Regions from separate parts of the Homo sapiens genome. Here regions 1, 2 and 3 are each linked to region 4. The links come from fine-mapping of genetic effects on gene expression. A gene starts in region 4. Each other region holds a variant in brackets. All regions are shown on one strand. Distances are from middle to middle.

Region 1 (8,103 bases), 97 kb before region 4:
CAACCTGGTGGCTTTCAAGGTGCTTTTCGTTTTGGTTTGGTTTTCTTAATTCTAGTGTGAAAATGGGGAGATTTCATATTGTTTTATCAAGATTTTTGGCTTCTCTTGAAAACCTAAAAGACATGCCAGTACTGGGCTGACTTCCCTCAGCTCATCAGCTGGGCTGTGTGGATGGGGCACGTCTCCCCAGTTTGCCACAGTCCCTACCATTCCTTATTGCATTTCACCTGCCTCCCATATCTCATTTTTGTTACCTGCCTGGCCCTGGTGAGCTTGAAACATGCTGGGATATTCAGGAATGTATCCTGGTTGGGAAAGATTAGAAACTATGAGGACTAGGAGATAAGAAGCCCTGGAGGACATGGGAGAAGTTATTTTGTTCCATGAAGTCCTAAGGCTACACTAAGGGCCAATGGTAGATGTTACTGAATGATTGAGGGGCCTCAGACAGAGAAGAAATTCCAAAAGTTGGGTCGCTGCTAGGATGAAATAAAACCATTTGGAAGAAGATATTAGAAGTGGCCAGGAATAGAAAGATTGAGTGTTCATCAGGATGTGAAGGAGAAGAATCAAGTGCAGGGTTGGGACTAGTGCTTCTCAAATTTTAATGTGCAGGAGAATCATGCATGGATCTTGTTAATGCTGATTCTGGCACAGTAGGTCTAGGGCGGGGCCTGAGATTCTGCATTTCTAACAAGAACCCAGGTGATGCTGACGCTGCTGGGCCAAAAAAGACACTTTGAGTAGCAAGGGTTAGGCAACCTTTAAAGGGCCCTTCAAGAGTCTAAGATTCCATGAAGGATACTATTTCCTCTACAAGCTTGTGAAAGTCTTCCAGTGCTACTGGGAATGGGGTACAGGGATAAATCTCACTGTTTTGACCTCACAGAAGTAAACCCCTAGAATCATGTTCTCAAAATGAAACACTGGATTGCTGAACTGATGGCATTGAGAATTAAGGCTCCAAAATCCTGGGAGTTTCATACCTAACTCCACTGCCTTTGCCTTATGATGCACACTGCTCCCTCTATCCCTCCCTCCCAGGGTCTGCAGAGATGAACTATGCTGTTTTAGGTCTCATTGGTCCTTATACCTTCCCTAAACCAGGAGGACTTTGGAGCCTGCTGACACAGGGAGTTCTACATGTCTAAGCACGCAGCTGCTAGAGTCCTCAGCCATCTGAGCTAAATAGCTGCTCAGAGACAATTAGTACACCTCCGCTCATCTTACAGATAAAGGAACTGAAGTCCAAACAAGCCAAGCTACCCAACCAAGGCCTCACAGCAGGCAAGAGGATAAAAACCATGTCCTTTGACTCCCAGGTTAGTTTTTAGTGGGAAAGAACCCTTGAGTGTGACCTTGCATGAGCTACAGGAGTCACAGGTACCTCAATTTTCCCACCTGGAAAATGGAGACAGCACTACCTGCCCAAAGGTACTTTCAGATGAACGGAGACAATCACAAACAGTATAGCCTGAGCGCTCTCCTAATTTACACATGGATTGAGGACACTGACTCCTTTAGGATTTTAAGAATCTACTGTAAATTGACATCTCACCAAATCATGTAGATATAAAACTCAAATTTTATTGTATAGGTTAAAAAGTATCCCAGTTATAGGTCTGGGCCTTCAGTAGGGTGGAAAACTAGTTTCAGTCTTAAAATTATAGAGTTGGTCAGGTGTGGTGGCTTACGCCTGTAATCCCAATACTTTGGAAGGCTGAGGTGGGCGGATCACTTGAGGTCAGTTTGAGACCAGCCTGGCCAACATGGTGAAACCGTGTCTCTACTAAAAATACAAAAAAAAAAAAAAAAAAAAAAAAATTAGCTGAGTGTCATGGCACACACCTATAATCCCAGCTATTTGGGAGGCTGAGGCAGTAGAATCACTTGAACTCAGGAAGCAGAGGTTGTGGTGAGCCGCGATTGTGCAACTGCACTCCAGCCTGGGCAACAGAGTGAGACTCCGTCTCAAAAAAAAAAAAAAAAAATTACAGAGTACATGGAGCCTGAAGGGCCCTAAGAATCCTATCCAAAAACCTTAATGGAAATTGTGGTCAATTTCAGGTGGTTTAGGAGCCTCTGAGGACAATCCATGGAATTTCTAGAGATAGTGCAGATTAAGAAACCCCAGATCATCTAAACTATCACCAAATGTTTACTGACACCTACTCTGTACAAAGCAGTGTGTCAGGCACCAGGGATTCAGGTTTGACAGCACAGATACTGTGTAGGCCTAATGAGGTTTACAGAAAGATCAGTCTCTTTCAAAAGGTGGTTCTTGGAGAACCTGGGCCCTTATTATAGATGCAAATTCCTGGACTCACACCCTGAACCTACTAAGTAAAAATGTCTACAGATAGGAGCCCAGGAAGATACCTTTTTTAGAAAACACATTCTCCATGTGATTCTAATTCACAATAAAGTTGGAAGACCTTTGGTCTAAATCTAGCTGCCTCATTTTACAGATACGAAATCTGAGGCTAACAGAGTAGAATGGACTTGCCCTAAATCCTACAGCTTGTCAGCCCCAAGGACCAAACCAGAGCTTGCAGTTCTCTCCCTGGAATAGACTGTAAGCTTCTTGAAGGCAGGGGCATTACACCACTGCACTTTCCTAGGCCAATACCTGACTAATCTTAGGCCCTTGAAAAATACCAGCTGAATGAATGAATGAATGCTCATCAATGGGAAAGGTAGTCTAGTTTAATGACTTGGAACATTCTGGTTCCAGAGTTAGGAAAACCTAGGTTTTACTTCCTGGGCAGGTGGAGCCCAATTTCCCTGACTGATAAATAGAGAAAACTAACAGAATAAGAGTATCTGTTGGGAGGATTAACTGAGCTAATCCGGGACAAAGTGTCCCAGTGTCTGGGACAAAGTTAGGTCCTCTCCTAGTAAAGGTGAGCAACTATGAATACATTATTTTTAGGGAAAGTTTATGAAAACACGGTATGTTCCAGTGTTTGTGATAACCATGTTTGGAGGAATAGGAGAGCGAACAGGAAACTAATAAGGAAAACTGTGGGTCCTGCAGAGGCAACCTATCTACCACCTGATTCAATTCAACTGGCTCTTGCTGATAACAGGATTTAGAATTTCCTCATTAACAGGATGTCATATGCCCACATCGAAACACAGTGTTCTTCAAGGAAAGAAAAAAGTCTTAGTTAATAGTGGCATTCTACAATAGAAACAAATGCCACAAGACCATTAACAACAGAAAAGGCAGGAACATTGCTTCTCAAAAGACAGCAATTATGCAATAGCAATCACTTAATATTATGTAAAAGATCACGTCTGGATTTTTCAATCCAGAGGTAATTTTAAGTTTCTTTAATTCTGTAAGCTCAAAGATTTGTCTACAAAAGCTGTAATTATTTTCCTTCAACAACCATCTTTTGCTACTTTGCTTTCTCTTGGTTTCCAGATGTCCTTCTGCTACAGGAAGCAAAGGGGTTAGGAAGGAACATGGCAAGAAGTGAGGGAGAGTGTGTGGAGGAGACTGGCAGAATCAATGTGGAAATCACATTAAATAATAAATTGGCAATGGATTTTGACTGGCTGCTCTAAATAACTGCTTCTGGTATCTGCATGCTTTTACTTAACATTCCACTAAAAGAATCGATTAGTGTTCAAACACACACACACACACACACACACACACACACACAAATGGAATTTTAATCTTTGTTTAATCACTATTTAGCAGGCCTGGCAGCCTTTGGAGGTAGGAAAGAATGGTGGTGAAGCAAGCCAACTACATTCTGCTCAAGAAGGAAGATTTGTTAAAGTGCATACTCTAATCCCAAGACTGCAGACTTGGCAAAGAGCATCTCTGGCTGAGCTGGCTAGTGTCTTCAAAACAAGGAAAGGGCTGTATGCGCTCAAACAGCAATGTTGGAAGGAAAGCTGAGCAGGTCATCTGCTTCATCCACAGTCTGAGGCTGTGTTAGAGACCAGGCTCTGCTGCAAATTTTAGGATGGCTCCCCTCCACCTTCCTCTCAAAGAACCCTACAAAGGCAATGAAATGATTTTGCTTTGAGGTTTAAATAACTATATCATTTCAAACATCTGTTTATCTACCAAGTAGATTAATAAACTTCTCTCTCTCTCTCTCTCACACACACACACATGCACACACATGCACACTCTCTCTCTCTCTCTCACACACACACACACACACACACAGCAAAGCAATTTCTTCAAGATTACCTTCAAAGAGGACCAGGTAGGGCTTAATTTAGCTCAAAGCATATAAAGTTTAAACAAGGGAGTTTGGACAATTAGATAAATGTACTTTCTTCATGAGTTTTGAGGACATAAGCTGGATTGTTTTTATTAATTCATTCATCCAAACAATGATTATTGAGGGCCTACTATGGCCAAAGACCTCTGGGAGAGACAAAGATGAACAAGGTAGTCCATGGCCTCCACAAACAGCTATGAGACAAGTATTTAAGGAAGGAAAACACACATACACACATACAAGCCTATAACATAGTGCCTTGAAAGCTGTACAGATAAATTCGATAGATATTTACAAAAGCCAAAAATTAAATTCTACCTGGGACGATCGGGGAAGAATTCCTGCAGAAGCAGAGTCTTTGACAGGAACCTGAGAGAAGGGGTAGGATTTTAACTGGTAGCAGTTGAGGGGTGGGGGTTGGGGGTGGAATCCAGCTAGAGGGAAAGTATGTG[G/T]AAAGAATGCGAGTTAGAAAGTGAAGGGCATATTTACTTAAGGGCAAGGAGCCTGATTTGGCTGGAGTGAGCAGGATGCAAAAGTGAGTCACGAGCAATAAGACCAGGAAGGAAGTCTGGACCAGAATTGGAGGGCCTTACATTTGAGCTGCTTGGCAGGTGGGCAGCCACAGTAAGCCTTTGAGCAAGGAACAGGCTGAAGTAGAACTCCAAGAATAAAATACGTTACTACCTTTCCACTTTCAATTAATCTCAGAATCCTCCTCCTCCCATGAGAAATGCAAGGAGAAAGATGATTTTGTTTTCATTCAGAGAAAATGTCCCCTTTTCATAGGCTGAGGATCATTCATTCTGGTACCCCACAGTCAGACTTAAGTGAGGCTGACCTAACCCTAGCACCTATTCAGTAGGCTGCTGTTTTGAGAAAACTTAACTTTCACTATAACCAGGACCAAGCTGTATGAGAAAACAATCAAACCTGAATGGCACTATTTATGAATGGAAGGAGGCATTACAACCCAGCAACCACGAGTCTATGTCTGCTGGGCCCACGTCAGGCAAGTCCTGCTGTTCCAATCAGCAATGGGGCTGTGTCTGTTGTCCCCACTCCAGTAACTCCATTGTCTCAACACCAGGATGCTGAAATCTGAAATCTGGCCCTTCTCTAAGAGGGGAAGGTCACTCACAGATAGGAGCCATTGTTTCAAAGGGCTGATCCTGTGTTTCCAAGGGCAGAACCATATCAACCCTCCAATTCCTTTGTTTGGTGTAGGTGGCTCTAGAAAAGGTCATTTGCTACGTAAGGCATGAAAGCTCATTAAAAGATTTTTTAAACAGCAGGGAGAAAAAAAAGCCAAGATACTTTGGAATGTCTGTTATCTAAAGGGCAAATAGAACCTTCAGTAGCTTTTCCCTTCCATTCTAAAAGAACAATTTCAACACTTTCTTCAGGATAAGTGCCCAAATGTTTTATCACTGGGAAAAAAAAAAAAAAACAAATCGACTCTGATCAATAATTTGATAATGTTCATCTGAGTCTCTTACCTATCAATCCATCTGTCCATCTGTCTGTCTGTCCATCTGTCCATCAACTTAAGTGTATGATGAACACAAGCACAAATCAAGCCTTGTGCTAGGTGCTGAGGATATACTGGTGAGGAAGACGGACGGGGTCCTACTCTCATAGAGCTTATAGAAGTATGTGTGGTGGTGGGGAAATGTAGACTTTCATCCGAAACTACAGGTAAATTAAAAAAGCTACAGTGGCAGGCCATAAAAGAGGGGTACATGGTACAAAGATAGTCCCTTTCTTTCAGATCAGACTGGGGGGATCTGATCCAGCCTGCAAGGTTTTCTTGAGAAAATTGGATTACAGGTTAACTCAGTAGAAAGAGGAGTACACAGCATTCCAGACAGAGGGAAAAGTAAAGATATGCAAAGATTCTGTGGCTGAGCAAACATGAATCATAGGAGGGCCTGGAAGAGCAGTGTGTGTGGTGCACAGAGAAGCAGGGAAAGTCTGGTAGGAATGAGAGGTGGACAGGGGTGAGGATTCTGTCTTTCCTCCAGGAGCATTTAGAAATACAAGTGTTTTCTATAAGGAGGTGATAAGATCAGGTTGCATTTGGAAAGCTCTCTTGTAGCCAAGTGGAAAAGGGATTAGGAGGCCAAGAGGAGGGGTGGAGGCTGGGAAGGAGGCTATCACAGTGGTGCAGGCAGAGATGATGTTAGCTTATGCTGGGAAGGCAGAAGTAGGGGTGGGCACACACAGATTTTTTTTAAAAATAGGGTTACTAGGGTCCTGTGGGTTTGAGTCAAGAAATAGAGCCTGAGAACTTGGACAGTCAGGTGAGAAGTTCATCTGTAAGAGCTGGATATCAATAGTCCCACAGATGCAGGTGAAACCCACCTGGGACCTGAGCCCAGCTCTCCCCTCACCTAGCCTGGTGTCTGTGTCATCACATGTTACTTTTAAGTTTCAATACTGTCCATAGAAAGCAAGTCAGGAGATCAGACCTAATGAGATAGGATTTTATGTCTATTTCACCTTCAAGAATTCAGTGACACATAGTCAAGAAAGAAGAGAGAAATCCTACAAGGGTGGTGGTGAGCCTCCCGTGCTCATGCAGAGTGTGCCTTTGCCCTCACAGTGTCCCTGGAGGCCCCAGTTCTCTCTGGCCCCTGGAAGTGTGAGCGCTCTGTGCTGGGGGAGCCTACTCTAGGAAGATAAGTATTTTCATTACCTCAGAAGGCACTGTGATTACTTCAACCAAAGAAACAGTTATCACTGGTGTTCAAGCTGGATTTAAAACTGCCCACACTGGACTTTTGAGAGGTGGTGTGTCTTCATATTCCATGAGCGATTGTCAAGGGTGATTCTGATTTTGTGTTATTTTCACCTTAAGTGGTGGGTTTATTATAGCCTAACTCTTTCATGAGATTAGACTTGACTATATTATTATCGTCATTATATCCACTTTGTAGATGACAAAACTGAGGCTTGGAGAGAAAATCGATATGAAAGCGTTTTGCAAACTGCCAACCACCACATGAGTGTAATCATCACAGCTAATAGCACCTACCACATGTACCTGCCCATTCCTTCCCAAACTCAGTATCTAGAAAGGCTGCAGGAACATAGCCCTCAAATATGGAAAACGTGCTGAGATGAATCATACTTCTGTACCAAGAGGGCAATTCACAAGAGGTTTTGAAAATCTCAGTCTAGCTGATGTGTGATCAATCACAGGAAAGCCCCTAGAAAGTGCTCTTCTTAGAGGCTTGACGGGCTGGGCAGGAGCAAGGGCTGCAATATTGCTCTGCACAGCAGCTGTGGATGGGTAAAAAGAAAAAAAGGAACTGGAAAGCTCATCAGAAGGCAAGTTCCTACTTTTCAGAGAGAGACTAAAAAATGACTGCAAACACATCCTATTAATCTCCTAGCTGGGTAAGTAGGGTTGAGCCACGCAGTAATAAAGTACTTGCTCTAATAATAGTAATAATTATAATCATAATCCCCTACATTCTGAAGACAGCAGACCAAAGTGAAGAAGACCATCTGCTTTGGCATCAGAAATGCCTAGGCTTGTGCCACAGTTCTGTTTATTAGCTCTGTGATCTTGGGCAAGTTACGCTATTTTCACAAGCCTTGGTTTCCCAACTGTAAAATGGGGGAAATTAATAGTACCTAGCATAAAGGTTATTATGAGGATTAAATGAGATGCAGCAAGTATAGCTCTTAGCAGTGTTTGGTATCTAGAAAGCACTAGCAATGCTAGCTACCATTATTAGTTACTATTTGGTAGTATTTTATAATTTACAAAGCATTTTTATATTTATGTCCCATTCCTTCCTCTCAGTTGCACCAGGGTAAAAGCAGACATCACCAACCTATTGTAATA
Region 2 (8,103 bases), 210 kb before region 4:
TAGAGCTACCTTGGACTTTCCAGTTACAGAAGCCTGTATATTCTTTCTTCGCTAAGCCAATTTGATTTGGCTTTTTGTCATTTTCAACTGAGAGTTTTGACCAAGCTATGTGATAAAGGCAAATTATAATTTGAAACCAAAAGGTGTAATTCCATCAGCAGCTGGAATTTCTAATAATCCTTTGAGGTGCAAAGGTTGCTGCTACTTTCATCATGAAGCACAAAGATAATCAGTTTTAAAAAATGACAGCCACATGATTGGCAAGCAGAGGCAGCAGGTGAGGAAAGTGTTTGTGAGTAGACTTGGGGACAGAGGAAGAGGGAATTCTTATGTATGTGATGAAAATTCCTGATTCCATCTGCAGTGTAGACCCCACCCAGTGAGAACTTCTGATATGTGATATATCTGAGAGCAAAACTTCAGGGTTCAGGGGAAATTCTCCGCTCCAAAACATCTTTCTTCAACCCCTGGCTGTTGTCCCCCCACCCCAATTTTAACTCTTCGGTTTTACCTCCTTCGTAAGTTTTTTCCCTATTGCAATCTAAAATTTCCTCTGAAAGGTTAAAGGGGAGTTAGCAGTTTAAGCTGTTATCAGTCATTTGCACCTCAGTGTGAAGGATTGCTCTAGGAGCAGAAGGTCAGGCAGGGGTCCCAAATGTTTAAATGTCTTCTATAAAGAGCCGGATAGTAAATACTTAGGCTTTGCAGACCATATGGTCTCACCTCTGATGTAGCTATAAAGCAGCCATAGACACCATATAAATGGTGTGGCTGGGTTCCAGTAAAACTTATGGATACTGAAATTTGATTTTCATGTATCACAAAATATTCTTCTTTTGATTCCCATTCCCTCTAATGATTTAAAAATGTAAAAACCATTCTTAGGTCACAGGCCATACAAAAACAGGCTGCTGACTCTGGAGTAATGGAGAAGGAAGCCAACATGAGGGAGGCCCCCGCACTGAAGACAAAATTCACCAGTTCCCCCATTTTGCTGGCTCTGAGTTGGGGACCAGGAAACAGCTGAATTTCCTTGTTGCTACCTAGTTCTTCCTGAGTGCTGAAGAGTCCACAGTGGGTTAGAAAACAGCTCAGGAACAGTGTTTATCCCCACCAGGCCCCTGCACAGAAAAGGCTGTGTTTAATTTAAAACTGTGCTAGAGGAAGTTGAAGGCCTAACAGAGACTGTCTACATGAACACTCTGAAACACAATATTTCCTCTGCTTTTTCCAGTATGTCCACCAGGCTCTTTTGGCTCACTGTCTAACCTGCTCGAGTCACAGAGGTAATGAGGGTAGTTTCACTCCAACTGAAAACAAGTCTGGACACTCTGACCATGGCCAGACTGGTTAAGAATGATACTGAAATTTACCAGTGTCATTCTTAAAGGATTGAATAACATCATATTTTAATTCTAATTATAATTACCATTTTAATTAATATTGCATAATTGTATCTTCCAGACACAGCTTGAAAAGCTCTTTCTCCCAGATTTTGAACTTTTTTGCTACAGTTCACTGTTTGCACCAAAGGAAATGACTTTACACTTATTTCTCTCACATCTCCCCTTGTTAGAGACATAAAAAGGACCTTGGGATTTCAGTGGGCTTCGGGCTCCTCATACCTCTACTCTCAACACCTTCCTACTTCCGAGTCCCAGTCCCGTCTGAGGCCCAACTGTACTTCTTGTGCTTGGATTACAGAGATTTGCCTGGATCCTTGGAGTAAGTCTCCATTTTTGTTTCACCAAGTTTGAGTAGTTTCTGTTATTGCCTTCCCTAAGATCCTTTTTCCAGAGGCAAAGATAAGAAAGATTTCAGCAAGTTTAGTAAACAATGTAAGACTGGCTACTTGTTCCTGAGGCAGGCAAGCTGGTGGACAGCTCATCCTTCCTGAACTGCTTCTACCTCAAGGCTGTCTGGCTGTTTGTCCTTCCGGAGTCCGTACAATCTCAGTTTCTCTCTCTATCTGGCTCTCTCGGAGCTATTAGGACAACTCTCAAATCTATCAAAATGATCATCTAGGGGACAATGCTCTAGAAGGCTTAGGATGTGGTTATTAAAACATTGAGCACTTTTTTTCCCCCCAAGATGGAGTCTTGCTCTGTCGCTCAGGCTGGAGTACAGTGGCTCAGTCTCGGCTCACTGCAACTTCCGCCTCCCGGGTTCAAGCCATTCTCCTGCCTCAGCCTCCCTAGTAGCTGGTATTACAGGCGCACACCACCACGCCTGGCTAATTTTTGTATTTTTAGTAGAGATGGGGTTTTGCCATGTTGACCAGGCTGGTCTTGAACTCCTGACCTCAGGTGATCCGCCCGCCTTGGCCTCCCAAACTGCTGGGATTACAGGCATGAGCCACCACGCCCGGCCCACTGAACAAATATTTTAAATGTGGTCTGCAAGTAATTGAGGGTTGTTAGTCACCATAATAAAAGGCCGCACCTGATTCAGGCATCTCTGTGGTTCTGCGAACCCACACATAATCAGACCTGATGGATCACAGAGTCCCTGGGGAAGAAGCCATGAGGCACCACTCAGATTGTTAAGTGGCTTAAAGCCAAACACAGGACGATGCTTCAGTACAGATAGGTAAAAGAGAAATACGTTAAAATGCCTAAACACAGAATTTAGATAAGACTTTTAAATACATGTTCCAGTCTTTATTGTTAATATTGATGCTAACACTAATAACAGCAGTCACTGTTTAAGGAACAATTGCTATGTGCCAGGTACCTGTCAGACCTACACAGGTTTGAATTCTGGCACTAGTTACTTAATGTTTCCATCGCCAACATCACGTTTCATGTTCCCCATCCCTAAAATGGGGTTAAAAACAAGTGAGAATTAAGTGAGATAAGTAAAATGCTTTGCATGCCTGGCTCGAAGGGAATTTTTATAAGTATTACTACAGTTAGCTCTTATCCACTGAATTAATCTATAATAATGGTTCTATAACAAGCAGGAGGCGGTAATGTCTCTTTATCAGGTGGGCCTTTTAAAAAAAAAAACAACAGCAACAACAACAACAACAAACTTTCTTTGAGACATGGTCTCGTTTTGTCACCCAGGCTGGAGTGCAGTGGCACACACAGCTCACTGCAGCCTCGACCTCCCTGGCCCAAGTGATCTTCCCACCTCAGCTTCCTGAGTAGTTGGGACTACAGGCACACACCACTGCGCCCGGCTATTTTTATTTTTAGGTGAGCCTTATCAACAACAGCTCTGCAGAGGAAAAGAATGCTTTAGGGTTGCTCCTGGTCTGGAGTTGGAGTGTCCCCATGGTCCCTTGTAGCCGGAAGAGTCTCAGTCTTGGGCGTACCGAGAGAGCGTGCGCTTTTCCTGCCTGGCTCCCTCCTCAGGGATCGCCAAATGGCCTTTCAGAAGAACGCGATTCCTGCTTCAAGGGACTGAACCTAGAACCTACCCCCCGCCCGTGTCGGATGGGGCTGTGGGCAGCGCGGATGGCTGGTGAGGGCGTCGTTAGGCTCTGCTACCACTGGAGGGCACTGCCGGCTCTCCTTTCCCTCCACGCGGCCCCTGACACTTCCCGGAGCTCAGCTCCCACCCACTGATGGCTCTCAGGGAGACGCGCGGCCTCTTTGAGCCTCTCGGCTTTCCTTGTAAGTCACAGGACAACGCTCTTCTAGGTCCCGGGGGCTGCAATTCTACACGTCAAGGTTGTCAAGTGGAGGAGGAGGCAGCGCCCTGGACAGGAGGCAGTGCGGTCTAATGCCAACCCGGCCAGCACCGGGGTCTCCTGGCCGGGGCGGGGCTCACAGGCTCCCCGGAGGGAAAGCTGTGCGGGGGTCCTTTCCAGCTTCCCCGCAAGGCTCTTTCTATCCTCTGGGGACCCTCCCTCCTCTTCATTTTTCTTTTGTGGTCACCTGGATTTATTTATTTTTTTCCGAATACATTTAATATCCAAACCAAAAACAAACTCTGGCTGACAGATTTCCATTTGCAGCCAGTGGCCAATTTAATTGAAGCAATGATTGATAGAAACCATTTTAAGGCAATGAAACAGTTTGACATGCAGAGGTTTTGGCAGTAAGAGTAGACAGGGGGTGAGGAGAAGAGAAAGACACTGACATTTATGAAGCCCACTTCCCCTCCAGAAATTTAGTACGCAAGCTTTCCCAAACACACCACACCACACCACCTGTATTAATATTTATCTAACATGTTTTTTTACATCACCTCTGGTCTAACTTTGCACCTACTTTAGCTGTATGCTAAGTAATAATATCTGTGAAATTACAGGTTAGCTACACGAATACACATTAATTTAGAATCCACATTAACTTAAACACATGAACAAGAAAACATTCCTGTGTTTGCTGCCTAAGATCGTCTCCTCTGTCACACTCTGGGAAACAGTATCACCTCCTTAATTCTCCTGGCAATGCTGGGAGTTGGAAAGAATTAGCTCTCTTTAAACAAAGGAGGAAACACAGGTTCAGAGGACTTAAGCAACCCTCCCCAGGTCACATAGCAATGAATGGTTAAGTAGGGATTTAAGGGAGTTCTTTTAAATCAGATTTCACCTGGAGAATGGGAGGCACATCCTCAAACCCAGAGATCACATAACACAGTCTAGGGCCCCAGGGTGCCTCAGTGCAGCTGATGGTCCTAGGCCAACCCCTTCTACCCGCCAAGGAAAGCCACCACCTTACCCGGGCCAGGCTGACTCC[G/A]GCCGGGACCTTGTAGGGCACATACTTCCTGTAGATATGGCCCACCCTGGAGCAGGGGATGTCCTCCATGCGGCCCCCACACATCCACACCTGCATGGCAAGAAGGAAGAGAGAGGATGACGTTTCTGCTTCCAGTTCACCATCCCGCCAGGCCAGCATCCCTTAGTGCACTCAGCAAAAGCATCAGCCTGGATTGTCTGCTGAAGCCTGGATCACAGACCTAATGACATGGGAAAACACAGTAATATAATAACAGCGGTAAAAACAGCTGACAGCACTGAGTGCTTACCATTGCCACACACTATGCTAAGATGGTCACATGCACAACCACACTTAAGCCTCATCAGAAAACCTATAAAGTAGGTAGTAACATTTTACAGATGCTGAAATGGAGGCTCAGAGAAGCTAAGAAATGTGACTCAGGTCACAGAGTAAGTGGTGGAGCCAAAATTTAAACCCTGTTTTAGCTGACTTCAGAATCTGAGCTCTAATCCACTATGGAGTGCTGTGTTGAGAATTCTAGGGTGGCATCGGGGGATCAGTGGGAAAGACCATGGTGATCACAAAGTGACATCAGCCACAGCATAAGTAGTCAAGGTGGCACACAGGTTCCGTAGATTTACTGTCACATATTTATTTTCCTCCTGGATCTATGAGCCTCTCGCTGGGTCTCCCTGAGCAGTTCCGTCAGCCTCCCTGCCCTGCCTTCTCTGAGTCTGGCTTGCTAGGCTGTGCAGCTGGGTCTTGCCGCAGTGTGGGATCTGATGGTTCTCTTTGCCTCCCTCTCCCAGGGAGGAGTATTTGACATCACAGAGAGCTCCTGAGTTTGCCCACTGGTCTGATAGCAACTTGGGAATGTGAACATGTACAGCCAATACTGACTCATACCCACTGAGGGGCCCAGCCTACATAGACCCTCCTTGGGAGGCCTGGGTTTGAATCCTGGCTCAGCCACTTACCCACTTGATGACTTTGGCCTACACAGACCCTCCTTGGCAGGCCTGGGTTTGAATCCTGGCTCAGCCACTTACCCACTTTATGACTTTGATTAAGGTACTTAACTTCTCTGAGACTCAGTTTCCTGTAAAGAAATAGAGGAGGCAGGACTGGAAGATGAGATATTGTGTGTAAAAGGGTTTAGCACAAGATCTGGTGCATACTCAGGACACAGCAGTGAATCAGTCAGCCGAGGCCCCAGCCTCCGAAGTGGCCTCACAATCCCTGCCTCCTCGTATTTGTGCCCCTGTGTAGATGCCTCCCAGTGAGTCACATGAGGACTGACCTGTGTAACCCACAGGATACTGCAGAAATGACGGTCATAAAGATGCCGTGGCTTCCACCTTTCTCTGTGGGACCGCTGGCTTTGGAGGAGCCAGCTGCCATGTTTGAGGACACCCCAGCCATGCTGTGGAGAGGTCCATGCGGTGAGAGCTGAGGCCTCCTGCCCACAGCACTAATTTGCCAGCCAGGTCAGTGAGCCACCAAGAAGCAGAGGTCGTGGTCACAGTCAAGCCTGCAGATGACTGCGGCCCTGGCTCATGGCCTGACTATTCTCCTATGCGAGACCCAAGGTGGAGCTATCAAACCAAGCCACTCCCAAATCCCTGGCCTAGGGAAGCGCTGCCATCATAACTGTGTATTGTGTTAAGATGGATTCTGGGGGTAATTTTTCCTGGCATAGGTAACTAACATGGGAGATGGTTTCAGGTGGCGATGGCAGAGCAGGGCCATTGCATAGATTCGTTGTAGGGGTGTATGGGATGTGAGAGATGCTACTTTATGCTCCCCAGTCAGGGAAAGCCTCACTTCGGAAGGGATGTTTGAGGTGGAACCAAGAAGGTGAAAGTAAAGGCAAGGGAACGGGTGGGAGAAGAGCAAGTGCAAAGGCACCAGGGCAGGGCCAAGCTTGGCATAATCAAAAAGAAAGCCAGGGCAGGAGCAGAGGGAGAAAGGGGAAGAGGGATGGGAGGGGAGGCCAGAGACGCGGGCAGGGCTCCCGCAGGGCCCTCACGGGGCAGAACAAGGAGTCTTCACAGAAGGTCTTCAGTGAGGGAGACACACAATCCACTTACATCTTACAAAGATGACTCTGCCAGTGGGGTGGAGAACAGCCTGATGGGGCAGGCCTCAGGGAGAGTAGGCCCGGGAGGCTCTTGCAGTCGTCCTGATATGAGACCGTCCTGACCCTGGGTGAGGGGTGCTGAGGCGATGGGGGGACACAGCTGGATTCAGGACATTATTATGAATCTCGCTACCATAGTCTCTCATTTGTGGAATGGGGGGCAGGAATGGGGACATCTGCAAACCAGATTCTGTGCAAAAGTGCTCTTTTCAGTTGGAACTGCTCGATGAGGTCGTGGGGATTGGGCTTCACATCTTGATTAATTCAGGGGCTCTAGAAGGGCTTGCTCTTCCACCTGGCTCCTAAAAGGTCCTTTGTCCCCCACTACTTCCTGCTGTCTCCATCCCCAGCCCTGATGTACTCTGGCCCTCCCGAGAGGGGATGTGCACAGGGCTGCAATTATTGGAAGTGCTGCCTGGAGAAATGCAATTATATTCTGATCTTGGGGGAGAAAAAAAAATCCAGCCAGTCAATAGAACAGAACATTGGTCTCGAGATAATGGGCTCCTGATGGTAGATTAATGTCAAGGCCAAACCAAGAAGTTTATTTTCAAAGCAGGAGATATTGATCAGGCGCCAGCATCCCATAACAATAACTCTTCCTTTATACAAAGTGATTGATGTGGAAGTGATGCTTTTGCCTGGCGGGTATTGCCCAGGTCGCTGCTGGGCTGCCCTCTGCCTTTCAGGTGGTGCAGTGGCCCTGAGCAGGTGGGACACCTTACCCTGCTCTATTTCTGAACGTCTCCCGGGCAGTTGATCAGGTCGGCATCCAGCTTCCTTGTCTTCATATTAAACTTGCATTAGCTAATGAGGCTCTGTGTCCAGCTCTGCTTGGCAGAGGCACCTAACTTTATGCAGGTGGATGATAAATTTCCAAATCCTTCTCTTTGCTGTGACCTCTGGTTTCTTTGGCCCCAATCATGCTGGCCATCAGCCTGAAGGTTCCTGAGGGACCAGGGTGACCCTGATATGTCGGGAGGCTTGAGGCATCCAGGATGCCCTCAGATTCCTGGGATGTCTGGAGGGTTTGGTCAGTGGGTTTACTCCATGGCTTCCCTGCCCAGCACAGGATGCCCTGGTGGCCGACTCTGAATGTGAACTACCCTCAGGAAGACAGACATCTGCTCAGATGAAGCTGCTTCACTCCTGGGTCCTTTGAGAGCATCCCAGTGCAGGCCACGCCCATCACTTCAGAATGTCCTCTGGCCTGACCAAGAGCCCCGTGCAGCCCTCCACCCTCACCTCATTCCACTCACTTCTTGCTCACCACACCCATTGACTCCCCTC
Region 3 (8,103 bases), 56 kb before region 4:
GATGCATGGGCTTTATCGAAAAATAATTTAAAAGCCCACCTAGACAATTGGAAGTAAGACTCCAAGAAAGAAAGACCAAAATGCCTTTAAATAGTTTCCATGCCATCAGTGGTCCAAAGGACTGACTTATCAGTTGCCCTGAACAATCTCCCAGTTCCACAGAAACACATAGGGGGCTGCAGCAGCCAGTTTAAGTTTACCACTTAATCGCACAAGTCTAGCTGGTGTCAAGCTCTTAAAGGAGTTGATCCCCGGGAACGGGGAGAAAAATGAAAAGGAAATAAAATTGAACAGTTGCCTGCAGAAAACACCAGCTGTGCATGATTGATTTCCATGTAATCTCCATTTGTCTCCCTGGAATTTCTTCATCAGATTTCTGGCACAGGGTCACAGGGAGGCCTGATGCTGCTCATGCCTAGAGTGTGGTCAAGAAAAAAAAATTCCCTTATATGCCCCTGAAGGCCAAGGAGGCCAACATGGGTGATCTGTGGGGTAGCAAGAGAGAGAAGCTTTTCTTCTCCTCACCCAAAGGCAATACTCAGACCATAGGCTTCTGCTGCCTAGGGTAAAGGGCAGCCCTGTAGGCTACTTTAGTAGAAGTTTTGTCTCTCAAACTGGTAGACTCCTGTGACATGGGGAGTTTGTGCCTCTCTTGGGTATCTTCAGTCCATCAACTGTTTGGGGCAGGTGTCTTGGCCCTGACCACAGTTGGTATATAGGACTCCTCCATGGACCCATCTATCCTGAAACCCACAAAGGGAAACAAGTTACTGGGGGGGGCTGGAGTTGGCCTTGGTCTTACTGGTGGTGGGCATAGGATTAAAAAAGAGTAGGAGAGAATGGAAGGGCAGGATGAATTCTACTCTGTTGTCATTTCAAAGTGCCACCCATTTTGCTTGATTTATGCTGTCTGCCTTGGACTGAATGCCCTCTGGTATTAATATTGGTGTGTGCATTTGCCTGCTTTGTCTCTGCCCACTGGAATGGAGCTCACTTGCTCAAAAGGAACAGAAAGAGCACCTAGGACAGTGCGGTCCCCAGTCCGGCAGCATTAGCATCTCCTAGAAACTTATTAGAAATGCAAATTCTCAGGCTCCACATCAGGCCTACTGAATCACAACTTTGGGCATGGGGGCCAGAAATCTGTGTTTGAACAAATGCACGTCAAGACTAGACCAGGAACTGCATTATGTGAAAGGAAAAGGGGCAAGCCCAGGAACTTAAAGTGACTTACCTAGGATCAGATAGCTGGTAACACAGGGACTAAACTAGAAGCTGGATTTGACTCCCAATCTTTCTCATTGCACCAGAAAAGGAAAGCAAAGCTGCAAAGCTACTGAGAGCTCTTTCAAAACCATTCTTAGCCATTTCTAGTATCTCCATAGACATTCCAGCAACTTATCTGGAGCCTGGAGCCTAAAATACTGCCATTCCTCATATGGGACTATAAGACTGGGTCAACCTCTCCCGCTCTGACTCCTCTATATGACCAGCATGAAAGAAAAATGCCCTCATTCCCTCAGTGGCCTAAGCCAGAAACCCAAGGAATGGTGAGGCGCAGCAGTTAATGAATCCAGGAGCTGATTTTTTGAAAAGATCAACAAAATTGATAGACCACTAGCAAGACTAATAAAGAAGAAAAGAGAGAAGAATCAAATAGACGCAATAAAAAATGATAAAGGGGATATCACCACTGATCCCACAGAAATACAAACTACCATCAGAGAATACTATAAACATCTCTATGCAAATAAAGTAGAAAATCTGGAAGAAATGGATAAATTCCTCAACACATACACCCTCCCAAGACTAAACCAGGAAGAAGTTGAATCTCTGAATAGACCAATACAGGCTCTGAAATTGAGGCAATAATTAATAGCTTACCAACCAAAAAAAGTCCAGGACCAGATGGATTCACAGCTGAATTCTACCAGAGGTACAAGGAGGAGCTGTTACCATTCCTTCTGAAACTATTCCAATCAATAGAAAAAGAGGGAATCCTCCCTAACTCATTTTATGAGGCCAGCATCATCCTGATACCAAAGCCTGGCAGAGACGCAACAAAAAAAGAGAATTTTAGACCAATATCCCTGATGAACATCAATGCAAAAATCCTCAATAAAATACTGGCAAACCGAATCCAGCAGCACATCAAAAAGCTTATCCACCATGATCAAGTGGCTTCATCCCTGGGATGCAAGGCTGGTTCAACATAGGAAAATCAATAAATGTAATCCAGCATATAAATAGAATCAACGACAAAAACCACATGATTATCTCAATAGATGCAGAAAAGGCCTTTGACAAAATTCAACAGCCCTTCATGCTAAAAACTCTCAATAAATTAGGTATTGATGGGACGTATCTCAAAATAATAAGAGCTATTTATGACAAACCCACAGCCAATATCATACTGAATGGGCAAAAACTGGAAGCATTCCCTTTGAAAACTGCCACAAGACAGGGATGCCCTCTCTCACCACTCCTATTCAACATAGTGCTGGAAATTCTGGCCAGGGCAATCAGGCAGGAGAAAGAAATAAAGGTATTCAATTAGGAAAAGAGGAAGTCAAATTGTCCCTTTTTGCAGATGACACAATTGTATATCTAGAAAACCCCATCGTCTCAGCCCAAAATCTCCTTAAGCTGATAAGCAACTTCAGCAAAGTCTCAGGATACAAAATCAATGTGCAAAAATCACAAGCATTCTTATATACACCAATAACAGACAAACAGAGAGCCAAATCATGAGTGAACTCCCATTCACAATTGCTTCAAAGAGAATAAAATACCTAGGAATCCAACTTACAAGGATGTGAAGGACCTCTTCAAGGACAACTACAAACGACTGCTCAATGAAATAAAAGAGGATACAAACAAATAGAAGAACATTCCATGCTCACGGGTAGGAAGAATCAATTATCATGAAAATGGCCATACTGCCCAAGGTAATTGATAGATTCAATGCCATCCCCATCAAGCTACCAATGACTTTCTTCACAGAATTGGAAAAAACTACTTTAAAGTTCATATGGACCCAAAAAAGAGCCCGCATTGCCAAGTCAATCCTAAGCCAAAAGAACAAAGCTGGAGGCATCATGCTACCTGACTTCAAACTATACTACAAGGCTACAGTAACCAAAACAGCGTGATACTGGTACCAAAACAGAGATATAGACCAATGGAACAGAACAGTGCCCTCAGAAATAATGCCACATATCTACAACTATCTGATCTTTGACAAACCTGACAAAAACAAGAAATGGGGAAAGCATTCCCTATTTAATACATGGTGCTGGGAAAACTGGCTAGCCATATGGAGAAAGCTGAAACTGGATCCCTTCCTTACACCTTA[T/C]ACAAAAATTAATTCAAGATGGATTAAAGACTTAAATGTTAGACCTAAAACCATAAAAACCCTAGAAGAAAACCTAGGCAATACCATTCAAGACGTAGGCATGGGCAAGGACTTCATGTCTAAAACACCAAAAGCAATGGCAACAAAAGCCAAAATTGACAAATGGGATCTAATTAAACTAAAGAGCTTCTGCACAGCAAAAGAAACTACCATCAGAGTGAACAGGCAACCTACAGAATGGGAGAAAATGTTTGCAATCTACTCATCTGACAAAGGGCTAATATCCAGAATCTACAATGAACTCAGATAAATTTACAAGAAAAAAACAAACAACCCCATCAAAAAGTGGTCGAAGGATATGAACAGACACTTCTCAAAAGAAGACATTTATACAGCCAAAAGGCACATTAAAAAATGCTCATCATCACTGGCCATCAGAGAAATGGAAATCAAAACCACAATCAGATAACATCTCACACCAGTTAGAATGGCAATCATTAAAAAGTCAGGAAACAACAGGTGCTGGAGAGGATGTGGAGAAATAGGAACATTTTTGCACTGTTGGTGGGACTGTAAACTAGTTCAACCATTGTGGAAGACAGTGTGGCGATTCCTCAGGGATCTAGAACTGGAAATACCATTTGACCCAGCCATCCCATTACTGGGTATATACCCAAAGGACTATAAATCATGCTGTTATAAAGACACATGCACACGTATGTTTATTGCAGCACTATTCACAATAGCAAAGACTTGGAACCAACTCAAATGTCCAACAATGATAGACTGGATTAAGAAAATGTGGCACATATACACCATGGAATACTATGCAGCCAAAAAAAATGATGAATTCATGTCCTTTGTAGGGACACGGATGAAACTGGAAACCATCATTCTCAGCAAACTATCGCAAGGACAAAAAAAAAAACACCGCATGTTGTCACTCATAGGTGGGAATTGAACAATGAGAACACATGGACACAGGAAGGGGAACATCACACTCTGGGGCCTGTTGTGGGGTGGGGGGAGTGGGGAGGGATAGCATTAGGAGATATACCTAATGTTAAATGACGAGTTAATGGGTGCAGCACACCAACATGGCACATGTATATATATGTAACAAACCTGCACGTTGTGCACATGTACCCTAAAACTTAAAGTAAAAAAAAAAAAAAAAAGCGCTTAAGATATCACCAGACATCCCTGGCCAGGCCCACTTTTATCCCAGATGCTTACCATTTCCATTGTTTATTGACGTCCATAATATTTCAAATGAATTAATCATACACATCCTCTTTTCATCATTACCTGGTAGACTAAATGCTTAGATTCTCCCCTCTGATTGTGGCTTACATATATTAATGTATTAATATATGAAGATCACAAAGTGATAAAAGTGTTCAAAAGGTAGAATTTATTAAAGGACGACTATATAATTAAAAAAAAAAAGCCAGAGCTCGGAGTCCCAGCTATATGACTCATTCACTGTGACCTGAGGACAAGTTTGAACCTTTCTGAGCTAGTTTTCTCAGCTGTGACATGGGTAGAGCAAGCTTACAGGGGTAGTACCCACTGGTGAGGATAAAATGAGATCACCCATGTCAGGTGCTTAGCACCATGCAGGGCACATAGCTAAGTGCTCAATGCACAACAGCTGTCATTGCTAGCCTCAACATCACCTGTCCCTCACCTCCCCGTATCCGACTGGTGACCAAGTCGTGCTGACTCCACCTCTTGGACTCTTCTGTCCTCTCATCCTTGTCTTTGCATGCCCATCCTCACTGCCACCATGGTGGCTCTAGTTGTCATCTCCACCCCCTTGCATCACCACACAAGTCTTCAACAGCTCTCCTGGACTCCAGTGTCCATTCCAGCCTGCTTTCCAGGCTGACAGCCCAGTGAGCTTTCTAAATTGCAAAGCTGTGCAGCTCATTTTGCTGCATGAGCTTCCAGAATCCCTGCAGTGGCACCCCATGGACTTCAGCTCCAAGGAAGAACCCACAGGCCCCTGGTGATCAGCACCCCCAATCTCTATCTTACATCTAGGTCTCCCCTCAACTCCATGTTCCACACTTAAGGAGTTTTGAGACCACCAAAAATGGTGAACTTTTCATACTGTGCTGTGTTCTCTCTGCTGGGAAAGTCCCAACCTCCATTTGCCTAGAAAACACACATTCATCTTTGAAGATATACCCCAGCAGTGATACCTCCTTGAGACCTGGTTCCAGGCTGAAGTGGCTGCCCCTGCTTTTTGCCCTCTCTGGCTGCTGCCTTTGCTTCTCTCACAGCACCTGTTCCCCTTTACTGGGCTCACGTGTTTTCACATCTGCCACCCTTGCTGTCTGCCGGATTATCACTCCATCCTGGGCAGTCCTCCAGCATAGAGAAAACACTCTTAACTAACTTATTACACGGATAAGCACTGAACTCCCCCAATCTCACCAGTCCCAGCTTTGCCCTCTGGGCTCACAGTAGAAACTTGATCCAGCATTCCCCCAAAAAAGCCTTTCATATGTTGGAATCTCATCTCACTTTCAAAGCAGGTTGAAATAATTCTTTTTTTTTTAATTAAAAAAAAATTTTTTAGAGACAGGATCTCACTATGTTGCCCAGGCTGGTCTTAAATACCCAGCCTCAAGCAATCCTCCCACCTGAGCCTCTGAAAGTGCTGGGATTACAGGCATGAGCCACTACACCCAGCCTCCTGAAATAATTCTTAATATTATACAAATGTGGCTGTGGCTATGCAAGGAATAATACAGGCCACATGACTGCTATCTAACTACGTAATCCATCACTTGCTAGGCGGTCACTCCATTCCCAGCAGTGGCAAAGCTCCCGTTTAGGGAGAAAATGAGCCTTCTCATCCCTTGCAGGTTGCGGAACATGGCAATGAAAACTAAGTGCTTGCTGTCATGGTCCGAGCCCTGGGCTCTGGTTCTGGTTCCTGGTGCTGCTACTCACCCACTGAGTGACCAGGGCAAGCTTCCTCCCTGTCTGGGCCTCTTATCCTCATCTATAAAATGAGGACTCTGGCCAAGAAGCTCTCTAAGCACCCTTTAAAGCACTAACATCTCAGGAATGTAAATCCTTATTAAGCCACCAGTGGCTGAAGAGATGGGGACCAATTTATAATATCTGTCAAACAATGGCTTAGAGGAAGAATTCTGAGTGTTAAGACCAGCTCCCCTAGCAACTTCTTGAAATGCCTTTAGACAGCAATACTCCTTCCCTGAAAGATCTTTGAAAGAACATAATAATAACAACTTTCATCAACGGTTTACTCTGTGACAGACCCTATTTAAAGAATTAATTCTATTAACTACTTTAATCCTCATGATGACCACATGAGAAAGAACTATTATTGCTTCTCTTTTATAGATGAGAAAACTGAGACACAGAGTGGTTAAATAATTTGCTCAAGGTCACACAGCTATCAAATGGCAGAACAGCAGTCAAATCCAGGTAGTCTAATTCTGGACTATGCATTATTAACCACTACGTAATATTGGCACTTTTGGTTAAATTCTCCCCAAAAGGGAAAGTTGCTTATGTGGGAAAGTATACCCAGGTACACCTGGCAAGCAGTCCTATGTTAAATAGTACTCAGATGGAAACAGGAAGAGTCAAATAATTTGTTCAACAAATATTGCATTTCTCTTCTGTCTGTTATGGGAACTGCAAATGCTCAGAAGTGAGTGGGAGTAGAAAGCAAAAGAGTAGTCCCTGTTCCCGAGGGAGGATACAGTGATACCATCAATGACAGTGTACCAGGCACACTGCTAATCACCTTCATTCATTATCTTATTTGAGATAAGATAAGTTGAGACCCCATCTCTAAAAATATTTATAAAGTGAGGGCTGATGCTATCTCATTTTGCAGATGGGAGAGAAGGCACAGAGACATGAAGTAACCAGCTCAAGGTCACACAGCTAGTAAGTGGCAGAGCTATAATGTGAACCCAGATCTGCTTGTGTTTCATGGTCTGTGCTTTTAACAGAACTGACTTACTACACTCTTAGGAAAGTAATTTAAGCTTTGCAGAATCAAAAGACATGCCAAAATAGAACAAATAACAAAGCTGTAAGAGACCAGGGCTGAAAACAGTAACTAGACAAGCTTGAAGCACTTTTAAGGAGTGGTGGCTATTGTGCTCCAAGGAGACCAATGAAAAGGAAGGGCTTTTTAAAATGCATGGGTTATATCTGGGAGTCTGGGTTGAGGGTAGGAGCTAGAATAACCTCAGACACTTTAGGCAGACAAGGTCAGCAAGGCTGAGCCAGGACAATACTGTCACACAGAGGAGGGCTCTGAGTGCTTGGGCATAATCCCACAAGTGCCCACGGTCATTGAGCTCTCAAGAGAGTGACAGGAGGGAAGCAGGGATTTAGGAGCTTTTGCCTGGCCACTGGGACCCTCTCCAGGGAGGGTTTATGCCTCATAGGATCACAGTTATTATTAACCCTGGAAAAGCTGCCTGGGCAGATGCACCAAAGAGTATTCAAAGAGCATAATACAGGAGAAGCAGGAAGAAGAAAAGTGCCCGAGGGACACAACAGTGCTGCAAAGGGCCCAGGCTCAGACCAGCAATTCTCAAACCATAACAGTCACCCTAGAAACCTTAAAATGCAGCTTTCTGGGCTACCACCAGAAAAGTGCGGCCTCAGGAGGTTCAAAGTGGGGCAGAGACTGTACCCTCCTCAAACAAGATGGCTGTCCTGCAGGGAACCCTGGACCAACCTAAAAA
Region 4 (8,103 bases):
ATTAGTAATGAAAAGGTTGATTAGCAATGTCTGCCCTGGCCATGGGAGGGGAAGCATCGTTACAATATGCATTTGCCTTTTCCCTTCTGAATCTAAGCCTCACTTAGCAGATGAGGAATCCAAGGCCCAGAGAGGTTAAACCTCTTTCCTGAGGACACACAGTGAGTTTAGGGCAGGAGAAAGGACTAAAAGCCAGGTCTCTGTTCCCAGGCCTTCCTCAGCTGGACTCCTTGGTAGACAGCAAGCCAAGAATGACAGAAAGAATGTAGGGAGCCGGATTTGTTCTGGCAAATCAACAACCCTTCCCTAGTGGCATCAGATTTCACCTGGGCATGCAGACAGAGGAGTGATTAGCAAGCTAAAGGATACTAGCCCTTCTGTGGAAAATTAAGGAAATCGTTCCAAGGCTACATTTCTATACTTAACTTTCTGATGGGCAAGGCTTCTGCCACCAGGAAGACTGAAAAAAGAGAAAAAAACATTGATTTCTGGATGTTCTAAGAATAAAGTTCAGCTCTAACACAATGAGAAAGAAATCCTGATACTTGAAAATTAAAGTCACCGGTATTCCATTATTCCACCAATTTCTATTCCACATATGCTATTTATCCAGTGAAGTCATTTTTCAACAAGAGATTATGGCTCAGAAATGAGGAGAGACTGCACTGAGTTTCTAACTTGAGCTTTTAATAACCTGTCCCAAACCTGGAATATGAAACAGACTGTTGAATTAAACCAAGATGTTAAACAGATTGGGGCTTGGAATGAGAGGGACCCACAAATTAAAAGGAAGATGTCTTCAAGGCTGGCATTTCTTGCTTGGTTTTGCAGCTTCCCAAGAAGCCAACTGTCTGACCAGATGACTGCTGAAATCCTAGAAGCATTATGTGTCCTTTATAAATCAGCTATCCCACCCAGCTCCAGAGGTACTCCCAGGATGAGCTGGCATGAGTTATGTAGACTTTCATTCTAGCAGATGATAAACACTATAAATTTGAAACTCCGTTCTTTAATCCAGTGGAGAAATCAAGGAGTTAGAGGACTACTCAAGTAGTGGATATGTTACTCTCAAAGAATCTTCTTTCAAACCCATATGGAACACATTTTTCATTTGGATAAAGTCCTGTCAGACTTCCCTCCAGAGCCTCTGCAGTTATTTCTACCAGAAGGATCAACGAGATGCTCAAAGATGATTCTCAACAATTACAAGAATGACAGGCTGAGCTCAGAACTGGTCAGCCCTGTTGAAAAAGCTCTGTATGCTCAAGATGCCAGATTTCCCAGATAGCAGCCTGGCATGTTACATGTATGTTCCAGTACACTGGGATGAGGGATGGAACACCATCACTCTGAGAAGTCAGCCTCTTTCCTCAAGGCCAGCTGACATTCAAACAACGGACTGGGGGCCAAGCCCAGTGCTCTGCATCTGTGGGAGAGTGAAACAAAAAGGGGCTGTGTGGAAATTTGGCAGGGCGTTCTTGAAAGGCAGCAGATGAATGCTGAATCCTGTAGCACCTAGAAGAGCTTATCATTGGGGAAACAGCTCCATTCTGCTGCTCCCATGAAGCAAAGAGATTTTCTTTAAAGCAAGAATAATCAGTTGGTATTCCCCCCAAACCCCCAAACCCCCTTCACCACTTCTTCCTCCTCCTCTTCATGCTATTCCAGAGAAAAAGAAATGAACAAAAACTAGATCTTCCCAGATGAGCCTGTCTATCCATTTCAGTTAGGGGCTCTGAGCAGCACCCAGCTGTTGCTCCCCTCTCTCTCCCTGCCCAAAAGTCTGCCTTACTCTATCAATACCCTCTTGCACAAGTGAGTAATTTACTTTGAAAGCTCAGGCCAAACTGGCAGTTAACCTTGACCTTCTCTACCCATCTGGGTCTACAGAAATGAAAATCAGGATGTCTTTGGCATCTATTGCAAATGAAATACGAGGTCTTTCTCCAAGCAGAGGCAGAATGTCAAGCACTATTTTAGAATGGGCTACAGCTATTCTAAAGGAGAGTTTGCACTAGGGTAGGACACTCCCCCTTGACCTGGAGCTGTGTCCAGTATGGAGCCTCCACAGCTAGGGATGCTACAAGGAACTCTGGACTCAAGACAGAAAAAAAGAAGGGACCGTTGTATTCCTCATTGATTAACTGATAGTATCACAGAATGTTAGAACTGGACCAATAATCATGGTTTACAGACCAAGAAAGTAAGGCTCAGAAAAGGAGATGAAAGGTGATCAAGGACACACACAGTAAGTTAGTGGTAGAGCTGAGGTCAGAACCCTGGAACTCCTGACTCTGATGCTGGTACTGAATAGGAACAGAGGAAAGAGATTTCATGAACGGAAAATCCATACAGATACAGAATTTCAGGGAGAGAGGTCTAAGCTAGCTGTCAGGGTTTGAACCAGGGGTTTAGGAAAGAGATGGAAACCTTAGTTTCTAAACAGTAAGCTCTACCAGAAAGATCAATGAGACCCTCTGGGATGCTTTGCAGCAATTAACAGAGTTACAGGCGGAGCTCAAATTGGTCAGCTCTGTAGCAAAGAGCCCTCTGTGCTCCAGATGCCAGACTGCCTAGACAGCAGCCTGATACTGGGAAGAATAAGGAAAACCATCAATCTCAGAAAAGCCAGCCTCTTTCGTCGAGGCCAGCCAACAGTCAGTCAAGTCTGACCCTGATACACAAATTATCCACTTCTCATGGGACCAGAGAAATCCCGTAAGAAAGCCTGAAATGTTCCACTATATGAAACAGTCTAAGCAATACACTCACTAGCACCTCCTGGGAGGGTGGGAGTGATGTGACAGAGCTTCTGCTATGAGGGAGCTGCTAGTCTAAATGCGTGCACGCACACATACACACAAACATACGTGGGTAAGTTCAAAGGAGGCAGAAACCATTCCGATCCCAGTTTTGGCTGCAATAAACACTACAACTAACCAGACTAGACAAGTTCAGAAGAGATAGGGAAGGCTTCTGGTGTTCCATCCTCAGGACACTGGGCACCAATAGCCTCTGGGACATTTTGGGGGTCCCCCCACCAGAGCCCCACCTCTGGACTCCCATAAGGTCAAAGGCAGCAGGTCCCTCAAGGACCAGGAGCTTACCCCCTTCTCCACCCCCAGGGGCTTGAAGCTTTAAAGGGAGCATGATCTTTACATTCTGCAAGGAATCCACAGGATCTGAGAAAGGAAAAGGCTAGAGTTGGGGCGGGGGTGTTGAATAAATGGGGAGAGGAGGAAGGCCCGGGTGTCTCGTTGGGCAGATGAGAAATCAGGAAAAGGGCTGACCTGAGCAAAGAACACTGGGATCAGCAGGTAGGGGTTGTGGGGGGGGGGGGGTGGGAGGAGGGAAGCAGAGAGGACCTGGACACCAAATAGAAGAACCAGAATCTTCATTCCTATTGGCACAAGGCAGGAGTCATCCTGGGATACAGGGATGCAGATAGGATCCTTCAAAAGAGATCCGCTGGAAGACGTCAAGGAATACCAGACGGGGACAGAAAGGAAGGTGGTAACATGTGGTGAGAAATAGCGTCCTGAGTGCTAGTTCGGACTCAGTCTCTGACTGGCGTGGGACCCTGGACAAGTCCCGACAGGACTTAATTTTCCCATCCGGAAAATGGGAAGAGCTGAAGAGTCTCGGAGCTGACTCTGAGGAGGCAGACAGCAGAAGGTGGAGGAAGGAACCACAGGCTAAAAGTGAATTCGGGAAGGGGGTGTTCCCGGCCTGTAGCAACGGGGGGACTCACCTGTCCCGCCGCCGGCGCCACCGCCGCCCCCGATCCCCCAGGGGTGCCGTCGGGCTGCCGCTCGCGGTACAGCGCCCAAAGCCCCACGTTGGGCAGGAGGACCAGGGCCGCCAGCACCAGCGCCACCGCCTGCAGGAGCCGCTTCTCCTTCCGCCTCATCGGGGCCGGTCAGCCCCGCCGCGCCCCGCCGGCCCCGCCGCGCCGCCCCCAGCTCCGCGCGTCCGCCCGTCCGCCCGGCGGCGGCAGCAGCTCAGCCAGCAGAAGCGGCTGCGGCGCCGGCCCCGCTCCAACTCCGCGGCACTTCCGCCGCTCGCCGGCCGGGGAGCTGGGCGCCGCCACCACGCCGCCGCCACGAGGGGGTCGTCGCCGCCGCCACCGCCCCCGGGCCCCGCCGAGCCGCCCGCCCCGCGCCGCCTGCCCCCGCGTCGACCGCCGAGTCTCTGCGCTGCAGGCTCGGCCCTCTCACGGAGCGTCTCGGCCCGCCCGGGCGCTGCAGGATGCCGGGCCGGAGCGCTTCCCCCCTCTCGAGCCGCGATGGTCCGTCCCACTCCTCGGCGGCTCCCCCGCCCTCTGGAGCTTTGCGAAAGTCCCGGAGTTGGCGAGTTGGGCGCTAACTGGTGCGGGCTGGGCACCGCTGGGTGGGGTGCATGTCCGCTCGCCCGGGTACCCTGCCGCCCCGCCCGGCAACCTCCGCCCGGGACTGCAGCCGAACCTTTGCTGCCTCCCTGGGGATATGCAAATAGTGCTGGGGCCCCGCCGGGCGTTCTGAGCCTGGAGCCCCCGGGGCTGTCACTTCCAGCCCACCTAGGCTCGGCCCCCAGGACCTGCGGACCTACTTTGACCCCGGCGACTCGGTGTTCCCGGCCATGAAACGGGGCCACAGCCGTGCTGCACGCTCACTGTTCCGCGGGCGGGCCCTGGTTTTCTTCCTCTAGGGGGGCCCTGGCGTTAGGTGTGAACGCCCTCTGCAAACTGTAGGGAGCTGTGCCCGGCCGCCGCCCGTCTGTAGATCCTGCAAACCGGCGGGTGGGTAAGTGACGGTAGCCTCTCTGCAGCACCTTTCCTCACGCAAGTCCAACCCCCTTGGAGTTAGAATGCCCTGCATTCTCACGCGTGCTTTTGGATCCTAAGCGCACTGAGCCCTTCCCGGAAAGCTCTCAGCAAACCGTTGGCGAGCGCCACTATGTGCCAAACACTGTGCCAGGCTCTGGGATGAAATGAAAACAGACCTGAGCCCTGACGTCTGGGAGCTGAAACATGAAACACGTAATTTCACTAGACCAGGCAATGTGTCTGTAACTGTGGCGAGGGCTTTGACAGAGGAGTCGGGCTTCTGGGCGATGCGGAGGGCCGTGGAGCCGGACTCCGACGGTGATGCCAGCCAGCGGCTCCTCCTCGGGGCGCTCGACGCTGGTCACTTAGCTGCCTCCTCCCTGATGCGGTGGAACGGAGCACCCCCTTGGCTACCTTACTCTCTGCCACCCCCACATTCGTCCTCTTGATTCTCTGCTTCTCTAGCTCAGCCGCTGACCTTCGTGCCTAGCTGCCACTAGTCCTTGACCAGCGTTCTGGCAACTCTTGCCTCCAAGTTCTTCCAGCTCCAGGCTGAGCGATGGGGATTCAGTTTTCTGACATCACAGCTCAGTTCTTGATTTCTGCAGCAAAACCTTCAAGGCTTCCATCACCTCGGCTCTAGAGTCCATCATGCTCCTCTCCTATGACCTGCTAGGGCTGATCAAACGTTCTGTCTCCTGCCGTGCCCTGCCCTGCCCTGCCCTGAGCTTCGCTTAGCCTGTTGCAGGCTTTGTGTTTTCCTTCTTGTGCTGTTGACCACGCAGCTCCTTCTACCCATAAAACCCCCTTCTCTAGGTCGGTGGAAATCTTGTTCATCCTTCCGTGTCTAGTTAAACTGCCACCTCCTCCACGAAGCCTTCTAAAACTCCTCCTCAGGGAACTGTTTTCTTTCTTTAGATTTCCATCACAATAATGCTTACCTTTTATTGAGTGCTTACTCTATGTCAGGCAGCCCTTGAGATGCATTACCTCTTTAAATGCTCACAGTTACCCTGTGAGGTACATGCTTTTCTTATACCCATTGGCGAATGAGAGTCAGATTTAAAAATGCATGTAATCCCAGCACTTTGGGAGGCCAAGGCGGGCAGATCACGAGGTCAAGAGATCGAGACCATCCTGGCCAACATGGCGAAACCCTGTCTCTACTAAAAATACAAAAATTAGCTGGGCGTGGTGGCGGGCACCTGTAATCCCAGCTACTTGGGAGGCTGAGTCAGGAGAATCGCTTGAACCCAGGAAGCAGAGGTTGCAGTGAGCCGAGATCGTGCCACTGCACTCCAGCCTGGCAACAGAGCGAGACTCTATCTCAAAAAAATAAATAAATAAATAAATTAATTAATTAATTAAATAAATAAAAGAATGTGGCAGCCAGAATGATCTTGTTTTATCCAAGGTTAGATTGTATCGCCCCTCTGCTCAAATCCCTGTAGTGGCTTCCCACCTCTCATTAGGTTCCTAAGAAAGTACAGGACCCTACAAGCCCATATGTGATCAGCTCTCACTCCTTACTGTCCTTATTGTGCCCCAGTGACATTGGCTTCCTTGTTGTTCCTCAGAGCATCCCTCAGGCAGGCACAGTCCTGCCTCAGTACCTTTGCACCTGTTGTTACCTCTGCCTAGAATGGCCATTTTTCTATTTCTAGCTCCTAACTCTATGTCTTTTTTAAACACATTTTTTTGTGATAAACGTTTGTAAAACTGATCATTTGAACTATTTTAAAGTGTACAATTCAGCGGCATTATGTAAATGCACATTGTTCTGCAGCCATCACGGCTATCTATCTCCAGAACTGGTCATCAACCCAACTGAAACTCTGTACCCATTAAACACTAACTCCCTATTACCCTCTCCCCACAACTGCTGGCAACTACCCACCATTCTACTTTATCCTTTTTGAATTTGACTATTCTAGGTACCTCATGTAAGTGGAATCATATCATATTAGTTCTTTTGTTTCCAGTTTATTTCACTCATAATATTTTTTAGATTCACCCATGTTGTAACATGTATCTGAGTTTCATTCCTTTTTTTTTTTTTTTTTTGACAGTGTCTTATTATGTTGCCCAGGCAGGTGTGCAGTGGTGCAGTCACTGGTGCAGTCATAGGATTATAGCTGGTTGTAGCCTCAAACTCCTGGGCTCAAGCCACCCTCCCACCTCAGCCTCCTAAGTAGCTAGAACTACAGGCCCATGCCACCACACCCAGCTGATTTTTTAAAAATCTTTTGTGGAGACCGGGTCTAGCTATGTTTCCCAGGCTGGTCTCAAACTCCTGGCCTCAAATGATCCTCCCACCTTGGCCTCCCAAAGTGCTGGTATTACAGGTGTGAGCCACTACGCTCAGCCAAATTCCATTCCTGTTTTCAAGATTGAATACTATTCCATTGTATGTATGCCACATTTTGTTTATTCATTCATCAGTAGATGGACATTTGGGTTCTTTCTACCTTTTGGCTACTGTGAATAATGTTGCTATGAATAGCCCTATGTCTTCTATACTGCAGTGGATACACAGTATTTATGTAATTAAATAATGTTGCAAAAAACTTTTAGGTGCCACTATAGCACTGAGCACAGTGCTGGTAACAGAGCAGCTAGAATGTTCTTTTTACACACACAAGGCTAACTCTGCTGCTGGGACTTGCCTATGGCTTCTCTTCATGTTAGAATATGTCTATGAAGCCAGGCATGGTGGCATGTGTCTGTAGTCCTGTCTACTCTGGAGGCTGAGGTGAGAGGATTGAGCCCAGGAGTTCAGGCTGCAGTGAGCTATGATCACAGAATTGCACTCCAGCCTGGGTAACAAAGCAAGACCAAGTCTCTCAAAACAAATAAACAGAAAACAACCTACAATCTATGAGAATCCTTACCACAGCCCATAAGGCCTTACATTATTTGACCCAACTTCTAATTTTTGCCTTCTTTCCTTCTCTTCTAGTTACACTGGTCTTGCTATGTTCCTCAAATGTATACCAAATTGATGATTCCCTCAGGGCCTTTGCAAATTTACTGTGCCCTTGTCTAGAAATCTCTTCCTCTACCCCTCTGCATGGTTCTCTCTCCGCCTTCTCTCAGGAACCAGATCAGGGGTCCTGCCTCAGAGAGAGCTTCCCTGACCAGCTGATCTAAGATATCAACTAGCACCACCACCATCTCCATTTGCTTGATTTTTCTCCAAAGCAGGTATCATTTTTGGTCTCCCTGTCTAGAATGTGAGTTCCAAACAGACAGGAACTTTGTATTTGCCTTCTATGGTGTTCCGTGCCTCTGTCAGCACA

Which allele goes with the higher level. Positions count from the first base shown, and alleles are read on the strand shown. Sizes are in standard deviations (SD) of each study's normalised expression. Not every link is listed here.
For the expression in tibial artery of the gene that starts at base 4,044 in region 4, allele T in region 1 goes with a lower level than allele G (small effect, 0.17 SD a copy in GTEx).

What was found.
Region 1: its variant is fine-mapped to the expression of GALNT10 in tibial artery (GTEx, PIP 0.95). The same link has a PIP of 0.9 or more in aorta.
Region 2: its variant is fine-mapped to the expression of GALNT10 in whole blood (TOPMed, PIP above 0.99).
Region 3: its variant is fine-mapped to the expression of GALNT10 in whole blood (TOPMed, PIP 0.90).

Annotation. Positions count from the first base shown.
Region 1 is chr5:154,283,980-154,292,082 of GRCh38, reverse strand. All of the region lies in intron 1 of GALNT10 (polypeptide N-acetylgalactosaminyltransferase 10), which reads right to left. Among named protein-coding and RNA genes, the nearest start is that of MIR1294, 59 kb to the left of the region's middle. RefSeq lists a silencer at 6,100-6,394. The variant G/T (reference allele first, on the strand shown) is at 4,703.
Region 2 is chr5:154,400,782-154,408,884 of GRCh38, reverse strand. It overlaps GALNT10 (polypeptide N-acetylgalactosaminyltransferase 10), which reads right to left. Exons shown (of 12, transcript NM_198321.4): 8 at 4,674-4,781. All of the region lies in intron 2 of SAP30L-AS1 (SAP30L and GALNT10 antisense RNA 1), which reads left to right. Among named protein-coding and RNA genes, the nearest start is that of SAP30L-AS1, 41 kb to the left of the region's middle. RefSeq lists a silencer at 3,492-3,541. The variant G/A (reference allele first, on the strand shown) is at 4,692.
Region 3 is chr5:154,242,239-154,250,341 of GRCh38, reverse strand. All of the region lies in intron 1 of GALNT10 (polypeptide N-acetylgalactosaminyltransferase 10), which reads right to left. Among named protein-coding and RNA genes, the nearest start is that of GALNT10, 56 kb to the right of the region's middle. RefSeq lists a silencer at 5,650-5,699. The variant T/C (reference allele first, on the strand shown) is at 3,356.
Region 4 is chr5:154,186,674-154,194,776 of GRCh38, reverse strand. GALNT10 (polypeptide N-acetylgalactosaminyltransferase 10) reads right to left here and starts at 4,044. Exons shown (of 12, transcript NM_198321.4): 1 at 3,752-4,044. The coding sequence starts at 3,910. It overlaps LOC124901118 (a long non-coding RNA gene), which reads left to right and starts at 4,698. Exons shown (of 2, transcript XR_007059010.1): 1 at 4,698-4,781. RefSeq lists silencers at 3,749-3,808, 3,879-3,958, 4,049-4,158, 4,169-4,268, 4,359-4,448 and an enhancer at 4,669-5,634.